Regions from separate parts of the Homo sapiens genome. Here region 2 is linked to region 1. A link means that fine-mapping ties the variant in region 1 to the expression of a gene that starts in the linked region. Tissue or cell type: whole blood. Region 1 holds a variant in brackets; the other region holds the start of a gene. All regions are shown on one strand. Distances are from middle to middle.

Evidence for each region. PIP is the estimated chance that this variant, and not a neighbour inherited with it, causes the effect.
Region 2: MMP25-AS1 starts here. The variant in region 1 is the best candidate, but not a certain one, in a credible set for the expression of MMP25-AS1 in whole blood (INTERVAL, PIP 0.75).

Annotation. Positions count from the first base shown.
Region 1 is chr16:2,985,704-2,988,452 of GRCh38, forward strand. GREP1 (glycine rich extracellular protein 1) reads left to right here and starts at 2,559. Exons shown (of 29, transcript NM_001396456.1): 1 at 2,559-2,637. The coding sequence starts at 2,574. RefSeq lists enhancers at 1,751-2,702, 2,703-2,749. The variant G/A (reference allele first, on the strand shown) is at 1,600.
Region 2 is chr16:3,058,228-3,060,727 of GRCh38, forward strand. It overlaps MMP25-AS1 (MMP25 antisense RNA 1), which reads right to left and starts at 1,143. Exons shown (of 5, transcript NR_123723.1): 1 at 769-1,143; 2 at 313-475. MMP25 (matrix metallopeptidase 25) reads left to right here. Exons shown (of 10, transcript NM_022468.5): 8 at 1-106; 9 at 185-442; 10 at 600-2,499. The coding sequence ends at 871. LOC124900372 (sialidase-like) reads right to left here and starts at 1,143. Exons shown (of 3, transcript XM_047435000.1): 1 at 769-1,143. RefSeq lists silencers at 13-62, 93-222, 363-412, 873-1,342 and an enhancer at 1,381-2,286.

The DNA of each region.
Region 1 (2,749 bases):
CTGGGCCTGGGTCCAGCACTTCCAACACCCCTGCTCTCACCCTGCCCTTGGCCCTCAGCCCTAGCCCCTCATAGCTGCTGCTCTGTTCCGAGGCTGTGCTGTGTCCCCTCAGGCCAGGGTGCCTGGGAGCAAAGGGTAGCCCAGGTCAAGACTCCATCAGGGGCTCTCCCAGCCCACACACAGTCTCTGTGCTGTCAGGCAGGCCCTGCCTGGGTGGGTCTGGGGGTGAGCAGAGAGGACTGGCTGTGCTGGGAGTCGGAGTGGCGGCATTGCAGGGGCTGGGACACCCGACTGGGTCCAGCCTGGTCCTGAGTGGCTGTCAGGCTGGCCCGAGGCCCTGGGCTGGCTGGCATTTTCCAAGGTCATGCCAGCACCAGGCAGCCTGGCAGTGGTAGCGGGCACTGGTGTTCCCTCTGGCAGTGGCCAAGCAGGCGCCCATCCGTTACCTCCCACAGGGCGTCTCCTGGTTTCCCGCCTGCCTCCTCTTGGGCTACGCTTTCCCAGCGCCCTGCAGGGCAAGCCATGTGTCTGTGTAGGAGCTCTCAGCCGGCCCAGGTCTGAAGCAGACACCTCGTCCCATCTGGCATAACTGGGCCTACTGCCCGCCTGTAAGCATGTAAGGTGCTTGAGAGCAGGGACAGCAGACGTGGGGACTGCCAGACTGCTGGGGTTCAGATCTCAGCCCCACTGCTCCAGAGTTGCACAATCTGAGCCAAGTCCCTTCCCCCTGCCTTTGTTTCCCCATCTGCAAACGAGGATAAGCAGCAGTTCCTCCCAGTAGCCCCAACACAGAGTTGCTCTTCTTGTCATTTTAGGGGAGAGTGAACACACTCGGGAAGGCCCCGAACCAGATGGAGTGGGTGTTTGCACCCTGTGTGAATCCAGCACCCAGCTGCTAGCCCCGGGGCTACTCGGCTGCCCTCCGTGAATACACGGGGGACATGCGCCTGCTGCCATGGGCGGGGCAGGTGGCCTGGCAGGAAAGCCCTCTCCAGGAGTCTGAATGGACCGTCCCAGCTACCCTGGGCACTCATAGGATGGATGGGGCCAGGGAGCATCCCTGAGCCCCTGTCAGCAGCCCATGAAGGTCCAGCCTCGGGGACCCCAACTCATGGCTGTCTGCCAGGCAGGACGGTGGGGGGGCGGTTCAGGGCACTGTTCTGAGGCGCTGGGCTGAGGGGGCCTGCCGTGAGCAGACAGTCCTCGTGCACAGGTGGGTCTGTGGTTGGGAGGTGGGCACCGCAGGCATCGTGGTGTGCCTGTGGGTGTGAGCCCTGGGGATGGCTTCATGTGTGGGCAGAGCAGCAGTGGGGCACAGCCTACGATGTGGGTGAGAGGGGAGGCAGAGAGGGAGGGGGCACAGGGACCTCAGTGCTGGGCTGGCCTATGAGTGAGGGTACCTGGTGGTAATTAACCCTGTAGTCTATTGGCGGCTGGACCTGGCCGCAGAGGTGTGGGCTCAGTAGCCTCTCTCGGAGAAGCCCCTGCTGCCCCTTCCTCATTATAGCCCTTCTGCAGACCCCCAGCCTAGCTGGGCTGACTGGCTTGGCAGGCTGGACTCCTTAGCCAGAGGTACCAGGAGGGGCTGGCTGGGCCAGG[G/A]ACAGGCCAGCAGACAGACAGGGTGTGGGGCCTTCTGGACCAGGGTGCAGGGGCTAGGGGTTGAGTCACTGCCGTCCCCAGCCAGCCTGGTGGGGTCTGCAGGCTCATTGGGGCGTGATGCCTGTTGTCCAGACCCCCATGCCCAGTGCCTCCCTGCCAGGCCCCCAGCACAGGGCCCCGGCTCCAAGTCCATCCACCCAGCCCCAGGCATGGAGAGCTGCTCGCAGCCCCCCACGTCCTCTCCTCAGCCTCTCCTGCGGTCCTGCCCCCCAACACTGTGTGGTGGCTCCCCTAGTCTGTGACCCAAAGTTAGAGTCACTGCTGGGGCAGGAGACGAGGCAGAGCTGGAAGGCCTCCGCGGACTCTCAGAGAGGCTGGGCACAGCTGGCCCGTCCTCCTGTGTCCCTGCCCCTCATGGAAGGAGGAGGGAGGAGGAAGGGGTGGCTCTGAAGTTGGGGGCTCTGGCCCACTCTGGCAGGCTGAGCCTCCATGAGGACAAAGGGCCCCCTGGTGGGGTCTGTGTGGTCTCAGGACTAGACGGGATGACACCTGGCTTTTGTTGGGAACACCACCCGCCTGTCAGACAGGGTCTGAGATGCTGTCACCCCCACCCCTGCTGTCTGCAACACTCCAAAGCCCTGGTTCCCGCCCTCTCCCCAGCTGTGTTTGGGCTGGGCCTAGGGTGCCTGCCTGCCCCTTGCTGGGGGGACATCTGAGCCCTCTGGGCCTGGCGCCAGGGCCTGAGTCGCTGACAGGGGCGGAGAAGTCTAGGGGGCCTGTCCTGCTGTCAGCGCCCATGATGGATGAGGGGCCAGAGCTAGACTCCTGCCACAGGGGGAGGTGGGGGTGACCCCCCAGGGTCTGCAGGCAGAGCCTCTGCCTCTCACAGCTGGGGGGCCTGGGCGAGGGTCCCCACCCAGCCAGGGGTGTTTAAAGGCCCAAAGGGCGTGGGCCCTCCCACTCTGCCTAGAGTCATGGGCGCCTGGGCCTTCCCCGCAGCCCTTTTCCTTCTCTGCCTGACTTCCGAGAGCCTGCAAGGTGGTGAGGGCAGCTTGGGGCTGGGGGTTGGAGAATGGGCATCTGTGACTGGGGCTGGGGGTCCAAGTGGGGCCCTGGCCAGATGCTGGGGTTCTGGAGACAAGGAGGGCTG
Region 2 (2,500 bases), 72 kb after region 1:
CGACCCGCACGGCTGCACCGCTTCTGGGAGGGGCTGCCCGCCCAGGTGAGGGTGGTGCAGGCCGCCTATGCTCGGCACCGAGACGGCCGAATCCTCCTCTTTAGCGGTGAGTGGGGCCGGCGGCGGGGCGCGCTGGGGCCGGCGCGGGGAGCCCACCCCTGACCTCCCGGCCTCCACCCTGCAGGGCCCCAGTTCTGGGTGTTCCAGGACCGGCAGCTGGAGGGCGGGGCGCGGCCGCTCACGGAGCTGGGGCTGCCCCCGGGAGAGGAGGTGGACGCCGTGTTCTCGTGGCCACAGAACGGGAAGACCTACCTGGTCCGCGGCCGGCAGTACTGGCGCTACGACGAGGCGGCGGCGCGCCCGGACCCCGGCTACCCTCGCGACCTGAGCCTCTGGGAAGGCGCGCCCCCCTCCCCTGACGATGTCACCGTCAGCAACGCAGGTGGGGAGCGCGGTGACCTGCGGGTTACTGGGCCTGGGGGTGGGGAGAGGGATGTGGGGAATGGGGACATGGAGGCCACCCTGCGGGGATGGGGGTCCTTGGGCATCAGGGAGCGGCGGGGCGGGGAGGGACCGGGACTCAAGCTCTGCTCCTCCAGGTGACACCTACTTCTTCAAGGGCGCCCACTACTGGCGCTTCCCCAAGAACAGCATCAAGACCGAGCCGGACGCCCCCCAGCCCATGGGGCCCAACTGGCTGGACTGCCCCGCCCCGAGCTCTGGTCCCCGCGCCCCCAGGCCCCCCAAAGCGACCCCCGTGTCCGAAACCTGCGATTGTCAGTGCGAGCTCAACCAGGCCGCAGGACGTTGGCCTGCTCCCATCCCGCTGCTCCTCTTGCCCCTGCTGGTGGGGGGTGTAGCCTCCCGCTGATGGGGGGAGCCATCCAGACCGAACAGCGCCCTCCACGGCCGAGTCCCCCGCCGCTGGACCTGGTCGGGGGTTGTGAGGCGCTGCGGAGGCCCCTTGTCTGTTCCCACGGACGGGGGCTCGGGCGCGGACTAAGCAGGGGGGATCTCCCGCGCAGGGGCGGCGGCGGCGGGGACCGGTCGCCTGGCGCTGGGCTCAGTCTCCTCAGGGTCTGAGACCCCGGCGCTGCCACCGGAACCCGCCTTCAGGGGCGCACGCGCGCTGGGACCATGCGTCGGTCGTCGCCCCCGTCGTTCCCTCCCGGCTGCCGCCAGGGGGCGGTCGGACCCCGCCTCCCGAGCCCGGGGAGGGGCGGGGAGGACAAGGGGCGGGCCCGCGGCCTCACCCGGAGGGACGGCAGCCCCGGTCGCGCGCTGGCCCCGCAGGACCTTCCTTTTCCAGGAAGAGCCAGCTTTTCTCGGAGCGCAGTCCTGGGACTCTCCGCAGCCCCGCCCCGCCTGGCCACTGCGTCTGGCATTCCTGGGTCGTTAGAGGACAGGCCTGACTGCGAAGCTGTGCCTTGCCCCTCTCCCACCCGCAGTTTCTCACCCCGTTCTGCTCCCACAAGGCCCCCCTACAGTCACTGCCACACTGGTGGGGACCTGGGACCCAGACCCGGAACCAGCCCAGATATCACCCCTGAGGACCCATGCGCCACGTCCTGGGTGGTGGAATCAGTGGCTGGAGGGACGACCCTTGCTCTCCAGGCTGTTAACCTTTTCCGTTGCTCCCCCGCCACCCACCTCCTCCTCCCCAGGCCACCCAACTTGGGCACCTCCCTGGGCCCAGAACTGCCTTCCATTCAATGGGGAACCCTTCTATCCCCAAGAACCCCTTCCCTGCTTGCACCCTGGAGAGAACAGCTTGACTCCCATCAACTCAACGCTGGTGGAAAGACAGGGACCGAACCCTGGCTCAGGCCTGGTCATTGCCTCCTCAGCACTCCCTCCTGGGAGGCCTTAGCTCTAGAGTGAGGGGTGGGTGGAACCTGGGGGCACCTCGTTCACCCTGTCCCCACTCCCCACAGTTTTAGGATCTAAATGATTGCCTCTGGAACTATTCTTCTAGACTATCCCACATCAGAATCACTGGGAAATTTAAGTTTGCAGATCCCACACTCACCCTGAATCCTCACTCAGGGTGGGGTCAGGAATCTGCATTTTAACTAGTCGCGGGGATTGTGGGGGGCAGTAGCTGGCTGTTTCGTGGCATTTCTGTGGCTCTGCAGTGTTCCTCCACCCCAGGACCAATATGTTCAGGCCACACCGATGGCCTGAACCCCATGGGTAGAGTCACTTAGGGGCCACTTCCTAAGTTGCTGTCCAGCCTCAGTGACCCCCTAGTGCTTCCTGGAGCTGAGGCTGTGGGCGGCTGTCCCAGCAACCATGCGAGGGGTTGCCCCAGTTGCTCATACAAACAGATCAGCATGAGGACAGAAGGCAGGAGACTTTGGTCAGTTACCTGGGAATTCTGGGCTGCCAGGAAACGATTTGGGCCTCTGTCAGTTTCTTTTCCATGTATGAGGAGGGGGAAATTTGTATATTAGAAACTTATTCATCCCACTCAGGACAATAAAAACGAATGTACAAAAAG